Homo sapiens: one gene and its partners. The protein of the gene in region 3 interacts with the protein of the main gene of each other region in a biochemical or structural test. Each region holds a gene or a part of one and is shown on either strand. Other genes may lie near its edges.

Region 1 (7,131 bases), on a different chromosome or scaffold from region 3:
CCTCTGTGGAACAGCTTTTTAAATTACTTTATGTAGAAAAAACACTAATATTATAAACATACACCTATAGAACCAGTAGTTAAGTAATGTTTAATGTATCTAAATAAGCTCAGTAACTTCTTTTCATTGAACATGATTATTTATAAGAAAACATGCAAGAGATTAAGAAACCATATTTATTTCTTCTTTGGTACAACCAGAGATGTTACCTCAAACCTTTAAAATAAATAATCTCATCAATAAAATTTATGAATGCCAGAGTATTAAAATTATTTCTTTGCTTTCACATAGAAGCGCTCAAAATATTAACAGGTTTGGGGTAAAGTACATACAGTTCAACAAAAGTTCAAGGTGAAGAAGGAAACCAATACATGACGTAAAGAAATCATTTCGGGAGATGTAGCCCTTTCTTATCACTCCAGAGACAGCACATCGATGAGATTTTAAGCACCAATTCCATTGAATGTAGTGGGGTTTCTTCATAACTAGTCTAGTAATCCTCTATATAACTGAAACAATAATCTGAGAACAACTTCTAAATGAAAATAACTACTGCAACTGAGGTAAACCAAACAGTTGTTTTTGTTTATTGGCACAGTGGCCCACGATAAGACACATAGGTATAGCACACTAAAGCTCAAGATCCTGGGAACAGGAGTATAAATTTATTCAAGGGAGGTGTTTGGTTTTCTTTTTTTTTTTTTAACTGATGACTCTGCTGTCTTCCCTCCAAGGGAAAGGAAAGAGAACTTACTGAATAGCACCGTTCTTCTATATGTGATTGTCAAGTAGGACTTCTGTAATCATACTGAAGGTAATACATTGTAATCATGCTGAAGGTAATCATCTTTGCCCCAGCTTTGGATGGTGTTTCTCACCCAGGCTCCTTCACCAGGCGTGGTTCATGCAGACAGCCATGCAGCAGTAAGCCTTTCAAGGGTCAGGCCCTTTGTTAAATGCTCGCTGACCAGCCTGCATGGTGCAGGAGGCTGGCTCACAGAAACCGGGAAGCCCAGGAGGTCCCGGGGGTCCAGGCACTCCAGGAATTCCTGCCACCCCTGGGGGGCCTCGCTCACCGTCTCGGCCATTTCTGCCATAGCTGGCAGGGCCTGGGTCACCTGAAACACACAGAAGATTGCACATGTGAACAGGAGAATCCTCATTGATGCAAACTGGCAGAGGGCATGGCTCAGCAGCGCTCAGATAAGGGGTTTAACAAACGCTTTTGGAAGCGATGGATGATGACTGGTGATGATTGGTGATGATGATGATGATGATGATAATAAGATCCCTTCCTTGGACTTGGGTTTTCATGGAAATTAAAAGCAGAAAGAGACCTCAGTGTCTCTAACCCCCATTTCCATCAGTAGAGCTGCACCGTGCACCATGGTAGCCTCCAGCCACAGGTGCCTATTGAGAGCTGAAATGTGATGAGGCCAAATGGAGATGAACTAAGGATCAAACACACCTGGATTTTAAAGACTTGATATGAAAAAATGTAAAATAGTTCATTAATAATTTTTGTGTCTATTACATGATGAAATGATCTTTTGCACACAGTGGGTTAAGTAAACTATATTATTAAAATTAATGTCACTTGATTATTTTTACCTTTTTCATGTGGCTACTTGATTTAAAATCATACATGCAACTCACATTTGTGGCTCACATTATATTTCTTTTGAATGCAAGTAGCAGTATTCCTTACTTCTAAGAGTTGAGCAACATCCGGGCAGGGAGAAGTATAGTTTAGCGGTTAAAAACACAGGTTTTGGAGACAAATAGCTTTACATTCTAGCCCTATCATTTATGAAAAATGTGACATTAGCAAGTCACTAATCTCTCAGTTTCTTCATCTACAAGATGGGATAATGTCTTCCTAATAATTAAATTCAGGCCAGGTGCAGTGGCTCATGCCTGTAATCCCAGCACTTTGGGAAGCCAAGGTGGGCAGATCACCTGAGGTCAGGAGTTTGAGATCAGCCTGGCCAAAATGGTGAAACCTCATTTCTACTAAAAATACAAAAAAATTAGCCAGGTATGGTGGTGTATGCCTGTAGTCCTAGCTACTCAGGAGGCTGAGGCAGGAGAATTACTTGCACCCGGGAGGCAGAGGTTGCAGTGAGCCGAGATCGCGCCACTGCACTCCAGCCTGGGCGATAGAACAAGACTTCGTCTTAAAAATAATAATAATAATAATTCTACAATTGGAAGCACCTGATAAATAGGGGCTATTATTACAATTATTAAGATATTATTGATTAATGTCTTTTAGAAGGCTGTGCCATGTGCCCTACAAATTTTCATATTTTTCTCATGAAGGGCTGACCCCAACATGAACTTTGCAATAGCAGGTTCTCTGGGGGACATTTCTTGCTTGTCTTCCTTTTGTCGTGTTTAAGGGTTGTATGTTGCCCTCAATGGGGCACACTCTCTGAGGCACAGCACCCCATAACAAAGAGGAATTTCTGCTGAATGTTTACCCCAGTGCACTAGCAGCACTTTCACACAATTATTGCAAAAGTGGTGATGAGAAGTCAGTGTAAAACAAATTGTGTATGCCAAAATAATATAGGGATCCTCATTCCATCTCAGCCATCTTAACCTGGTCTTTCAGCCAAAAAGCCGGAAGCCAAATCTACATGTTCAACTACATATTTGCTTATATTTGGTTACTCTCCTTCTTTCTCTGTGGTTTTTACTTTTCTTTTTCTATTTCAGTTGTCTTTTTATATGTCTTTTGTTGGTCTTACTGTAGTAATATGGTCTTATTCATATATATCTCACATATTTTTAGAAGGAAGGTAGGTTAGAGATCCTGCTTTACATAACATCTCATTCTTCCTCTGGTGCATACACTTCGATCCACACAAAGCAATGTCATAGGGCAATATATTAATAAGTTTTAAGGGAGAATAATTATCTTTGAATTTATCCATCTCAAAGCTATAGATAAGCAGAGATATAAGTAATTTTCCCTAATTTATCCCATATACTTTCATTCAACTATACCTAGTAAGTATGAAGCAGATCATTATGTGTTTTCTTTTAATGATGAGGTCCCTGAGAAAGCTTCTCCCTAATCCACAGCATCTATAGATAAAGCTGTAGCAGAACTATGCCCTTAGCAGCACCTGTTAAGATCCTTAACACCAGATGCAGTTAAAGGTGAAGTTGATTTTTTTAAGGTTTAAAAGATGAGCCAGATCTAAATCCGATTTTCATGCACCTTATCACTAGGAATGTTCCCACTGAGACATACCAGGTGTGCCTTAAAATCAAATCAAGTTTAGGAGAAGGAAATGCCCAAAGAAGAGGTAGAAAACCAAATGAGCACAGGGGCTGGGATGGTCATTGAGATCAGGGGTGGGCAAACTTCAGCTCATGAGCTAAATCTTGTTTTTGTAGTTTTATTAGAACACGACCATGGTCATTTGTTTACATATTGTCTGTGGCTGCTTTGGCGTACCAGGGCAGAGTTAAATAGCTGCAATATGGTGCCCATAGCCAAATAATCTGATCCTTCACAAATAAAGTTTGCTGATCCCTGATGTTATAAAGAAACAAGCCTGGATTAAGAAATTCCCCCACTGTTTTTACCAGATGAAAACGTAAAGTACAAATGCAATGAAATTTGGCCACTAATATTCCACGTAAGTGTTGGGGAGACCAAAGGGAGGAGTGAGGCCTGTGGTGAGCTGGAAAGTGGATGCGGGCAGCAGCTCTTCTCCAGCTAACAGCTGTCATCGGGGAATACAGGCCAGTGTTGCCAGAACTTCTGATAATTTTCAAGAGAGGCCAGGAAGCTGAGTCTTTAAATAAATATCTCCCAATGTTTAAATGTTAGCAACTAATTCAAATTTTTTTCAACATTTGTAGAGCCAGCCAAAAACCTTAAGTTTTAAGTAATTTATTCTCTAATACACTAACAATATTAAAAAGCAGAAGGATAGCTTTTTAGATTTTCACATTTGGTTCCCCATCAACACACTTCAGGAGAAGTTTTTCTTTTTCTTTTTTACCTTGCTGAGTTTATTCCAAATTGCTGCTTATCCTCTGAAGGAAGAGTCGATGAAGCCATCCTGTCTACCCTTGATTTATTTTATGAAGCATGCATCTCATCCAGTTCTGCCTTTGGCAAATGCAGCAATTTACCCTTTGGAGCTTTTGATGATGTCATCATCATCATCATCATCATCATCATCACCACAAATGCTTAATGAGAATGCTTTCTCTTTTCCATGGGCATACACTATGCTCATTATTGAGCCCATTTTTCTCATGCATAAACTGAGAGTTAGGAAGGTCAAATAATTGTCCATAGTCATATAGCCAGAAATGAGGACCCTTAACCACTGCACTAACTGTATTTTCCTACCTATTGATTTTTTTAACTCTGTGGAAGGGTGTGGAGGGGTGTGGCAGGGTGTGTGTGTGTGTGTGTGTGTGTGTGTGGTCATTTTTTTTAATTCCTTGGGCCTGAGTTGACCAGGAAGTAGACAGAGGTACAAAAACAAAGCACAGTATTGACTTTTGCAGAGCTCTAATGATCATAAGAAACTAAGATATTTCTCTGAGGTTTTGCCCTGTAGAAATACCAGAGAAAAAAAAACAGCCTTAACATAGCAGATTGTCAGGCTCTGGAAAGCCCTGACCCAGGGCCTTTGCTCTCATGTATGTTCTAAACTATGTGGGAGCCTCAGTTGGGTGACACTATGTCCACAGTCCACATCACTCAAAAAGTGAAGCTGACTCATAATAACGGTTCACAAAATGGGCATAAATGGTTAGCCCAGCAGCTACATTCATGAATATCTATCAACTGCTTTGTAACTCTTCAGAAAGAGAAAACATGCATCTAAAGTGTTATTCTGCTCTGCCTGCCTCATGTGTGTATTACTTACACTAACTGCCTAATGATTACATGGTTTTCTGAAATGTCAAGGACCTATAAATATGTTGAATATTCCCAATACAAAGAAATGATAAATGTTTGAGATGATGGATATACTAATTACCCTAATCTGGTCATTATGTAATATTTCTATTGAAACATTACTACATATCCCATAAATATGTATAACTATTATATGTCAATTAAAATAAAATAAAATATTTAAAATTATTGCTAAACGTTTTTTTTTTAAACAAATGAATAGCTATGTCATTCTCTATAAAACCACTAGAGGGTAGTCATGTTACACTGATGGAAGCCCATCTCGGCTGGATCATTCTGGAGGCAGCCCCTCACCTAATACATGCTGTGGCGTAAAAGGGACTGTGTATACAGTCAAAACAAAAAAAGTGAATAATTTTCACATTAAATAGGGTATTTCATAATTAATCCACTGGTTATGTAGACTTTTTGTATGTACCAGGAGTTTCTTATATTTCTTGAGCTTAATGTTGTGGTATTTGACAAAGCAGTATATGTTTAAGGAATTATAAACTGGTTTATGTAAGGCCCAGCAACCAAATAAAACAGCTGCAGCAATGGAAATGGAAAAATTAGGTACTGAAAAACTTAGCCCAGAACTGAATGTGTGCGTGTGTATTTTTCCACTCAATAGTCTCAAGCAAAGCTCACCTTTCTGTGGACTTTGCACAAGAAAACCAAATACTCTTATAACCTAGCATAGTCCAGCACAAAGCCAGCTACAACTTCCATGTCCAAGAGGCAAAAAGCACCTTAGCTCACAAGTCACCTTCCTAGTGTTCACATTCAAATGATTTGTCATTTAATTTATGTTTTGCCCTAGTGAGTGCACAAAGAGGAAGTCAGGACTCTTTATTATTAATAAATATGTTCCTTTAAAATTCTCAGAGTGACGAGGAACTAGTCCCAATGGGCAAGTTTGGTGGCAGCAGAGAGAGTCTTTGAGACAACCGACCAAGCAATAACACTAGCTGACCTGTGGCACAAAACTGAAGGCGGGGGAGACTAAAGTTCCAGGGATTGCTAATGTGATCCACGTAGCTCTGCAAGAGAGGCAGAGAAAGAAGCGAGACACTCAGCAATTATGGGACATGCTCAATTCACATGTCTAGGTTGCAAAGAAAAACTAATCGTATGATTAGACAGCCAGCCAATCATTCTGTCCACTTTGGGAACATAGACTCAGGAAGCATGAATATCTGTCTTGTTATTACCTGACAGACTTTTGTCAGGACATGAATTTAAGAGTCTGTATTTTCTCAAATATATTATAAAAAAAGGGAGCAACAATAATAACAGTTAAATTTCACTAAATAATGTCAGAGTGTCTGTTTGCCATATGCCAGGCACTGTTCCAAGAGCTTTACATGTATTAACATGTGCATATATGCTCTAAATACAAGGTAGGCATAGTGATTCCCATTCACTGAAGAGGAAACTGAAGCACTTCAAGGTAAAAGAATAGTGCATAAGCCCTGGCAGCCTGGCTCCATGTCTGCACTTCTTAAATATTCACCCAGCCTACTCCTGGCTGTGAGAAACAAACTAGATTGTGCATGTGTACTTTTTAAACAACAAAGCACTGTAGCCAAAATGATCATCAATGTAAAGGTTATAATAATAACCTGTGTTCCATAACAAGCAATGAGCATTATGTCCCTGCAGGGCATGTAATACTTAACACTGAACAAACAGAGATACAGCATTGGAGAGGGGAGACAGGGAACTAAAACTGTCCAGAAAGAATACAGGAACTCTAACAACCGATAGAAAATGATGATATTAGTTACATCGTTAAAAATATGTTAAATGCCTTAGCACAAAGAATGATCCAACTATCTTTTTTTTTTTTATTCAGGAGGATTTGAGCCCCAAATCCAACAACAGGAACAACAAAGAAGGTTGCAGACTATGCTGTTCTGCAGTTTCTTTATTTTAGGTAAGAAAAGAATTTTTTTATCTAGACGGTTCCAGACAAATTACTGCACAGAATCCTTTTGAAGTTTCATCAGGCCTTAAAGTCCTATTAATATTATGTTTTTGAGAGATCAGAAATCACATTCCTAGTCACATTCAAGCTCTACCAAGAAATAAAAAGCAGTATAGCCTCAGTGGACAATTAACCAGTGAAAAGATGTACTGCTACCCAGTACTTCGCATTTGTGATTTGGAGTTGAAGTAGACTTTCATGGAGG
Region 2 (7,131 bases), on a different chromosome or scaffold from region 3:
TTTCTCTCATTTCTATTCTCAGAGCAGCTGTACCCACAGGAAGCACACATTTGGCTCTACTCCATTTGACAAGTTTTACAAGGTGGGCTCCATGAAGAAGGACAGAGATGGATCAGCACTGCTGATGACCTAGGTGGTTACTGGTGGTCTAAGTCCATGCTTCAGCGTGAGGACACCCTTTATACCTAAACCATACACTGCAATCCAGTGCTTATTAGAATAATGGGGGAGATTTCTTTCCATTGGTCCTAAATTCAAATGAGGTAAAAATGAGTGTCATTTATTAGTTTTCTTAAACTCCAACAATAGGAAATTAGAAGGATTGGAAAAAGTCTAGAAGAGCCTAATTCTTTTTTAAAACATTTTAAATTGATTTAGGGTTATGTGTGCATGGGTTTCAAGCTTTTTCCTAATGTTACCAGGGCAAACCTGGAGATATGGCTGAGAAAGTTTACTATTTTCTTGAAGAGTAGATAACTGAGAAAGTTCATTATTTTGTTAAACAGTAGATAGCTGAGAAAGTGCATTATTTTTTCTTAAACAGTTTTTTTTTTTCTAGTCTATTTATCTGTAGGTAAGCTTGCTGAAAAACAACTATAGACGGCCTGGGAGCTTCAGGACCCTTTGCCAATTACCAGAGGAAGATAAAGCCATTGAGAAAACGGAGCAAACAAGAACCAGCAACCCCTTGTTACCTTTAGATCATTAACATGTCATTATAATGCTAAAGTCCCTGCCATAGAAGAAAATGGCCACCATTTCTTGAACATATGTTGTATAAGGAAGCATGTTTATGAGCTGTACTTGTACATCTGGAGTTCCTCTCTGGACATGCTTACATATACCTCCCTGCCCCACATCTAACTCCTTAAAATTCCCCAGGTTTTCACAGCTTGAAGAGAAGGTCTTTAGAGCAAGAGCTCCCTCTTTCTCCATTCCTGACCAGGAATAAAATCTGCTTGCCTTTTTTTTCTTTCTTCCAGTTAGTTGTTCGTTCTTTGTGATCAATGCAGAGTAGTGAAAAAACACAGTTTACTAGTGACATTAAAATGTTCACAAGTTGGTATTTTGTATTTTAAAGAAATCTGACTTACATATTCATGTACTGAGTTTGGTAGAGAATCATCAAGAACAGGCCCATTTTCTGGATCGGTAAGATTAAAGTCCAACGTTATTCTCACAGAGTCCTGAAAGTCATGCTTGTCCTAGAGGGTGAAACATAAAATATATCACTGGTATCATATTTACCGGGTGTTCTGATCTTGTTATGTCTCCTTCTTCTGTTCCCAAGGGTCAGGCTTACTGCAGCATTCTTGTGCATCTAATCTGACATATGATCTCATCAGGCTTTTGCTTCCCTGGAGAGGGATTGGCATTCTGACAAGGGGCATAGGGGAATGTGGAGGTTTCAGAGTATGACCTGTTGACTCACTTCCAGTTCCTCAGAGGGCCCTGCTGGAGTGATGGCAACATCACACTTGGCTGTGTCAACATAGGAGCTACCTGCATCACAATATAGTTTTTCTTGAGACCTCAAGCCAAAGATCATTATGTAACACTTCCGGGAACATTTCCCAACTTCAGAAGGGCAAACTTTCTATAAAATGAGTTACATTTCATTAATATAATATATACCTACAGCTATAAGTTTTTGTTTGTTTGTTTGTTTGTTTGTTTGTTTGAGACAGAGTCTCTCTCTGTCACCCAGGCTGGAGTACAGCGGCACGATCTCGGCTCACTGCAACCTCCACTTCCCAGGTTCAAGTGATTCTCCTGCCTCAGCCTCCCGACTAGCTGGGATTACAGGCATGTGCCACCACACCCAGCTAATTTTTGTGTTTTTAGTAGAGACGGGGTTTCACCACGTTGGCCAGGCTGGTCTCGAACTCCTGACCTCAGGTGATCCACTCACCTCAGCCTCCCAAAGTGCTGGGATTACAGGCGTGAGCCACCATGCCTGGCCAAGAATTTTATAATGTAAAATTATTTGGAAAGGATGTGAATATGATTAATACTGTTAACATGCCACCAATAACAATAATCATTTATAGTATTCAAAATTATGAGCTTTATATACATTATTGCAAATTATTTCAACAGTCCTCTAAGATGAGTAACTATTATTGTCCTTATTTTACAGATGAAAGATTGACCCTCTAAGAGACCAAACGACGTTGCCAAAGTCTCTCAGAATGTGGAATATTTGGGATACAAATTCTACACTGGCTGACTCCAGAACAAATTTCAAAGTGCTTCTTTCAAAATCCAAAACAATTTTCGAAATTTTGAAAATATTTCAGTCCTTTAAACACCAGTACCTGGACATAACTTAGACACTGAATTTGTGGACAAACATAGACTGAGATGATTTTTAGCAGGTTGGAGACAATGCCATATCTGGTTTCATACCCATTCAAATTTTATCCACATTCTAATTCCTAAGTGTTCAGTTCTGATTAACTAAATAGGAGGGGCAACTCCAGTGTTATTTTACCAAATAATAGATTGATCTTGGTCCTGACAGAATAAGCTTCATGATAAGTATCATGAAGCATATCAACATGAAAATCACTGAGGAAGAACAAATGTGGCACAAAAGGGTGCACATTTTCTGTCACTCCCCTGCCCCTGAACTACAATTTTCAAAATACAGACTATGAATATATCAATAATACAGAAATAAGTCAGAAGTAGGAAAATTGGCCTGGTTCCTTTAAAGCTCCAAGTTTACCGTCAAGTCTCTAAGTCTTAATGTCAGTTACTAAAATCAGTTTCCTCATTACCTTCATGCTGCTTCTTGTTTTTATCACTCTCATGTACATTTTAAGAAAATGTTTAGGAAACTCCTGCCCTCTGTTGGGAACATTCCCCATATACACAGTGTCCCAACAAAATACATTTTAAATGATTCACACTGGCTTACCAGCCATCTCTAAACATTAATAGTTTGATTTCCAAAACTCCCTCATCCACTAAAATTAAAAAAAAAAAAAACTGAAGTAGCACAAAGCCTACAGATGATAGAAAATACCAGATAATTTTCCCCTTCGCTCTAAAATCAAACGGCGAGATATGTAGTTACATGGATCCCAGAAAGCATACAGCCCAGCAGTCTGCCCCCAGAGCAGTTAATCACTTACCAACCACAACTGACAGACAAGGCCCACAGAAATTAAATGTTTTCAAGTTGAAGGAATAAATGAATGAGTGAAAGAAATGAAGACATGAATAAGGTTTCTTGTCAACTAGAACACTGTGTCTTTTCCTGCCGTTCCATAATATATGGATGTCTGATAATGCAGACAGGGAAGACTAGAGATAGTTTTACAAATATTTGGAAATGAGAAAATTAGACCTGCGATTTTATGATAAAAATGAACAAACAAGATTTCCTTTATGACATCATAAGTGCATTTTGAAATAAAACAGTAAGAATTTGATTGACTTGAAATAAGACATCTCTACTGTATTCTTGATTTGGAATAAGGCAGCAACGATATATGATTTACTTGCCAACATGTAGAAGGAGTGCTTAGTGCATTCTGATTTTCGAACTGTGATGTTCCTTTGAACCTTTCTCTCTTGAGTTCCAGAGAAAAAACTTCGTGATATTTGTCTTAGTGAATCTAGGGTGACACGGTACTGCAAATCTACAAAAATTTTAAAAAATAATTGATGGAAATGTTTATTTGAAGTGATTCTCATATTGTACAGATTATTAAATTAGCATTATAGAAAAATCTCTTTGGCAATCAATCAAAAAAGATTCTATTGTTCAGCATATCCACACTGTTATAACAATGATATTAGCAGTCATGAAGATAACCTTGAGGAACTCTATAGAACTGGTCTCTGAGTTCACTGTGCTTTCAGTGTCTAATTACATTTATTGTTTATAATTCTTATACACACATGCACACCTGCCTATCATCTAATTGCCAGGCCACCACTGTATTTATTATATTTTCACTTAAAACATTCTTTTTAAGTTTAGAAATGTTGGAACCCTGCTTAGAATATTGATTATGTTATATTTCAATAGGGACAAAAATATACTTTAGTTATTTATTTACAAATATATACATTTTAATCTATTTATATATAAAATGACATTATCTCAGCTTATGGTCAAACCACTATTAAGGTTCAATAAAATAAGCATACCACAATAAAGAAAATAAATGAAATCTTACACTGTATATGAAGGCTACAATATTCCTTATTTGATCACTTAATTACTTTGCAAAAATTAAATAAGACTGAAATAAAGTTACATATAAAACTCAAAATCATTATTTTATGTTCTTATACCTCATTGATCTTTCTAGTCAGGAGGCTATTTCAGAGCATATACATGCACATATGGAACAAATCAAGAAAAACAGATTTTAAGGATTAATGGCTTTTCTCATTCTGCTTGTATTTGGTTACAGAGTAAATTTCTCTTCTTTAGCCAATGGCCTTTATAGCTTTGATTCGAGCATATTTCAACATCATTAAAAAGCTGCCTTAGAAAGTGGAGAACGGAGGGAGGAAGAGGAAGCACAGGCTGACCTGATGCACCTGAGAACACACACACAGAACAAGTCTGACTCTCGGAAACTAGGGTCACCTCAATGGAACAAAGGATCTCGGAAATGTGGGAATGGTAAAGTATTAGGGTTCTCTGCAATATCAGTCTTTCCCAAGAGGGGGCAAGAGAAGGGAGAGAAGAGTCATGGTAGAAACCTACAGGAAGGAAAACTGGGCCCATTTGTAGCTCAATTTCTAAACTCTACCTCTGAATCGGTATTTTTTTCTTAAGCGTCTCATTGTACATAGCAAGTAGGAGAGCCAGACAGAAACTATGGAGTGTTGAGGGCACTGCATACAAACATGTAATTTCTGCTCCAGAATTGACTGGGTTCCATAACCTATTCCTTTTGCAACAGAATTTTTTTTCAAGGTTCTGCATCTTCACTGGGGCAAATATGACGTGCAGCTCACCATGTGGGGAAAATACAATATCCTACTGGACTTCATCATGCTAGAGCAAATATATTGTCCTCTACCCAAAAGTACTTGCTATAATTATTTTGCTTACCAGCTTCATAAATCGTGTCTTCTTTAGACTTTAATTTCACATCAAAACACACTGTAGCATTTATGCATACTGTTTCCTTTCCCTCCATATGGCAGTTTTTCTTTTGAATATTCACTTTATTTGGCTCAAAATTCATGGTCACTTTAACTACGGCCACATCTCGGGACCTACAAACAAAAACAATGGGATTACTCACACATTTTTACATTTAATGAATGTCATCAACTTGGGAGTGCAAAGTGAGTGCATGGAAGAGGGTTCTGCTTCATGTATAATACAGCGCTCAGGACTCCATTTCTTTAATTAATCATTGTTACAGAAGAGATTATATCTGATGTTCTAAGACATGTAGGTTATATTTGGAAACCATTTGGGGCTTTTGGTTCAAACACCAAAGATCTAGTTTTTCCTGTGATGGAAAAGAGATGGAATCAAGTGTCCAGGTGAAACCCCAGAATCAACTGTATTTTGGGGATTTACGAGTTTGTTCCAAATTTGAAAGAAGTCTAAAGGTCCCTGAACAGCCCGTAGACCCCTGCTATCTCTTGTCTGGACTGTAATATTGTCTGTCCTTGTGAGTTCAGCTCTTCCTCTATTTCTAGGAAGGAAAAGCAAAATAACATTTGAGGCATTGTGCTAGACATGGATGCTATTTCATTTAATTCTTAAGGTTAATTATAAGCAACATCATTTTTTTGTTTTACGTTTGATAACTGGGGCTCTGAAAAGTTAAATATTTTATGCCAGGTCAAAAGCTATTAAGAGGAAAAACCTGGGATTTTAAACTCAGTCGTTTTAACTCGAAAGCCCAGTAATGTCTACTAATCCAAAATGAGATCAGAGTAAGATCTCAGACATGGAGAATATATGGATACTGAGGTCATTGTCTTAGATCCAAGCCGGAACAATTACTGCACATTTTTACCTGGTTTCTGCCTTGTGGCCAGAGCTAGCCCCTTATAACTGTGTATGTTGTGAATAATGAGGTCACTACTTATGCTTTTGCATTAAAAAAAGGTGGTTTTCTTTTTTCTGTTAAAACAATGGACTCATAGAAAATATAAACATCATAGAAATGCATAAAGAAAACACAAATAACTTGTTATACTACCACTCAGCAATAATCATCATTAACATTTAGTACACTCAGTGGTTTTTTCTTTACAGAAGAAAACATGCATACACGTACACACATGCATACATACATATATACAAAAGCACATCTTCATATGTATGCCTACAAATTTTTAAAACATTATATTACAATGAACAGCTTTCCAATATTTACATTTTTCTGAGAACATTATTTTTAATGGGATTTATTATTTTTAATGGAAGCAGACTATACCAGCATATGCACATACCATAATCTATGCATTCAATCCCATCTCATTGGATATTTAGCTTAATTTAAAAAAAAGGTTTCTGAGTATAGTGGTAAATTTAACATTATTAAAAGATGGTATTACATACAGTGCTGTGATGACACCTTTAATTGTACTTCTAGATTGTATCTTTACATTTTTAGGAAGTTAAATCCTTGGTAAAAAGTAGGAACATTGGAATGCTTTTAAACACTTATTGATAAAGACCTTCGAATGAGTTTTAGCCAGTTTACCCTTTCATCAGCAATGAATGAACATGCCTAGTTTCCTGCTTAGTAATATGGATTCTCCAGGCATGAAGCTGCCTCGACCATTGTCCACCCCACACATCCTCTCTGCCCCAGCCAGATCTTTCTTGGGAGTCAGTCCAGGTCTCATGACAAGACTCTCACTATTTGCTTCCAAACGTTTTTCCTATCATCTGTCACTTGTATCCACTCTCACTTCTTGTTAGGCATTGTGAATCTTAGTCTTCGTGTCCCAGTATATCGGTTTGGTCCATTCTGCTGTCAGTGGAGCCTGGACTATGATAGGGAAATGACTATCATTTTGGGCCATCAATGCCTTGATTTGGGGCAGGAGAGGCCATAAATAAGTTTGCAAAGCTTTGCAAGAAAGCCTTGAAACAAAACTGGAGCATAAAAACCCTGAAAACATATTTTT
Region 3 (2,940 bases):
ATCACCCGGCACATAGGGATCACCCAAAAATGGTAACTCAATAGGTGACCCAAACTTGATTCTGACCCCAAATACTCCAAGGCTGCGACGCCCCCATAAGCAGAGTGGTCCCCTCCCCTTGTCAACATACCTTGATGCCAACCAGGGTTGAGTAGCAGGGCCCCCCAACCCCCAGCCTCACAGGCGGCTCTGAAGAGGATGCAGGCCCAGCCTCAGGTATCAGGAAGTCCCTGAGCAGCTCCTGTCTTCTCCTGGATTAATTGCATTCACATCTGGAACAGATGGGGCATTGGGACTCTCCACCCCCGCCCCCTTTTTTCAAAGAGCACTGGTCCAGGAGAAAACCATGTAATTAAAAGAGGAGAAATGCAAAACAATCCCCTTAGCGGACTGTGCCATCTTCTCTCCCTTGTAAATCCATTAATGAACTGTAATTGCAAAGACAAACCCTTTATTGAAACCTGGTAACCAATGCACTACGGGGCCAAGAGACTCCCATTATAGCCCAAGGCCTGAGGAAAGAAAGAAAAGAACAATCCTAATTAGTTTAGTCCTGTTTATTTATACAAAATTCAAAAAAACAAAATTACAGGTTACAAAGTAACTTGCCATCTGTCAGTAGACCATGGCTGCCCTCGGGAGATGCTGGTTTTCATTTACAACCTTCTGTTAATCAAACCTAGAGCAGAGAGGGATGTGGGAAGTCCATGGAGAGGACGGATTTCAAGAGGACCTGGAGTAGCCGTGGGGAGAACTGCGATGAGTGAAGGGCAAGAGTTTGGGATTGAAAGATCCCAAGAAGCTGGTCCCTGCCTTCATCAGAGCCTGGTGACAAGGTCCTGCCACTACTCCACCCACCGGGCAGGGAAGAACGAGGTCCTATTCCCAGGCAGGGCTTCCACCCCATCTCTGACTCCACTCATCAGGGACATCTGTTGCTTCTGCCCGCCAGCTCCCAGGCCATGGCGTCCGCTAATGACCCTCTCCTCCTCCTTGGGGACACACTGCTGAGCCTTCTCAGTCCATATCAACATGGCTGCCTCTCCCCCTCCCCACCTGTGTGGGGAGGAGAGGGGAGTGGATAATCTCAGAAGAAAGGAAGAATGAGCAGAGTCATAACTTCTCAGGTGGCTGTGTCAAGGAGCCTCCTTGGACAGCAGAAAAACTCCTGCCCCAGGGACGGACAGAGAGAAAGGGTTTGGTGAACTGTGTAGGAGGTGGAGTCAGGTCATGGGGGCGAGGGTGGCTGTGCCCCAGTTAAGTCGCGCTTGTGTATTTGTGCTGTTGTACTGATGTAGCTCTTGGGTACCGTTCGTGTTGTTATTCTGCCTCTTTGAACTGCCTCCGAGGAAGATCTTTCGGTGTGGTCTGAGCTTCTTGTAAAAGCCTTTTAGACATGCTCTCAAGTGTGAATCTAGTAGTAACACTAAAAATGCTCCATTAAACAAGAATAGGTTCAGAAAATCACCAAAGCTCCCCCTCTGAGAGGACAGAGATGGAGATTCCGGAGCAGCACTGGTCCAACAGGGGCCTGGGGGAGGTGGCCGAGATCTCAGGGTGTGACCTGCAGACCCCACATAGGGCTGGAGGAAGGGAACATGGGGCCAGGAGTCTTTCTCTTGTGCAGTCTCTGAGGTGGGGCTGCTGCCATCTGCGTTGGGGACTTTGGGTTGGGGGTGATGCCGCCTGTGCACAGGAAACAAACAGAACTCCAACAGGGCATGTTGGGGGCGGGAGGGGAGAGGCACCTAGGGCAGCCCAGGCCCAGGCTGGAGCCCTTCCCATCATCTCACACACACACTCACCCCGTGGGCTCCCAGGTATCAAGAGGAGGCACAAACCCCTGGTACGACCTAAACCCACTCTCTTTTCCTCTGGCTGGTCCCTCTGGCTGGTGGGGGTGACATGAGCACCCTGCTCAACTGTATGTCTCTTAGGGCAGGAACTACGTCTGTCTCATACAGCACCATCCCCCCCCACCGCCATTGCCCTGTAAGTACATGATACCTGAACGAATGAGTGAACGAATGAATGAATGAACAAATGAGTCCTATCTGGTGTCATTGCCCTTTTTCTCTGAAGCCTTTTTCTTTTGATGTTCTTCAGTCCTAGATTCAAGTCCTGTCTCTCAGCGACCCACTGCTGAGCAAGTCATTTCATCATTTAGACTCTCAGCTTTCCCATTTGTAATGGGGATAATTTGAGTCTTTTCTGGGTAAGGTTACTGGAAGTGAAATGAGGTCAACTAAATGAATATGTAACTGAAAAGGCAGGACAAACACCAGCTGGTTTTGGTGTGGTCACTGTCATCACTGTCACCACCACTGTTACCATCCTTCCAACCATCCCCTCCCACCACATCTTCATCCATCCTTTTCCCTGGTCCCCAAATAACCACACTGCCTCTAGCCCCATTCACTGCTTACGTTAAATCACATTTAATTGTTTCTCACCGGAGAATAGAGAAATCAGTAAAGAAATTCACAGCACTCAGAGTCAAGAAAGGGTTAACTAAAAAAGATGGGAATATATTAAGCTTTTGATTATAAAAATGCAAACGCAGTCCCTCTCACACTCACCCCTGCATTATCACTCTCACACTCACATTCTGGCAAGACTCATGCCCACCCTCAGGCGCACGTGCACACACACACACACACACACACATGCACACATACACACACGCACACATACACACACGAGCTCCCAAACGCCATTACACGCTCTCAATAGGCACACCCAGACACACCCCCTCCCACCCCCGGGCTGGCTTCCCTCACTAAAATGGTAAAGCTACGGCGGACACGTGCAGGACGCTTGGAGAGGCCACAGTGGTGACAGGCAGCCTTAGACAACTGTGTTCTCCAGGATGGCCAGCCGCTTACTCACAGCTTCCAGTGGACTCAGAGTTAAGGAGAGGTGCAGGTTGGCCAGAGCAGG

What was found.
Region 1: the proteins of MATN1 (region 3) and COL9A1 interact in a biophysical measurement, tested with the Homo sapiens proteins (one study listed by IntAct).
Region 2: the proteins of MATN1 (region 3) and ITGA1 form a complex in vitro, tested with the Homo sapiens proteins (one study listed by BioGRID).

The regions. Positions count from the first base shown.
Region 1 is NC_000006.12:70,215,964-70,223,094, forward strand, and holds the end of COL9A1 (collagen alpha-1(IX) chain isoform 1 precursor), read right to left. Parts: intron 1,119-7,131; coding exon 934-1,118; 3' UTR 163-933; downstream 1-162. UniProt on the Homo sapiens protein: Structural component of hyaline cartilage and vitreous of the eye.
Region 2 is NC_000005.10:52,916,851-52,923,981, reverse strand, and holds part of ITGA1 (integrin alpha-1 precursor), read right to left. Parts: intron 5,251-7,131; coding exon 5,084-5,250; intron 3,651-5,083; coding exon 3,514-3,650; intron 1,206-3,513; coding exon 1,095-1,205; intron 1-1,094. UniProt on the Homo sapiens protein: Integrin alpha-1/beta-1 is a receptor for laminin and collagen. It recognizes the proline-hydroxylated sequence G-F-P-G-E-R in collagen. Involved in anchorage-dependent, negative regulation of EGF-stimulated cell growth.
Region 3 is NC_000001.11:30,710,735-30,713,674, forward strand, and holds the end of MATN1 (matrilin-1 precursor), read right to left. Parts: intron 2,898-2,940; coding exon 2,848-2,897; 3' UTR 543-2,847; downstream 1-542. UniProt on the Homo sapiens protein: A major component of the extracellular matrix of non-articular cartilage. Binds to type 2 collagens and forms long concatenated protein networks as part of the extracellular matrix.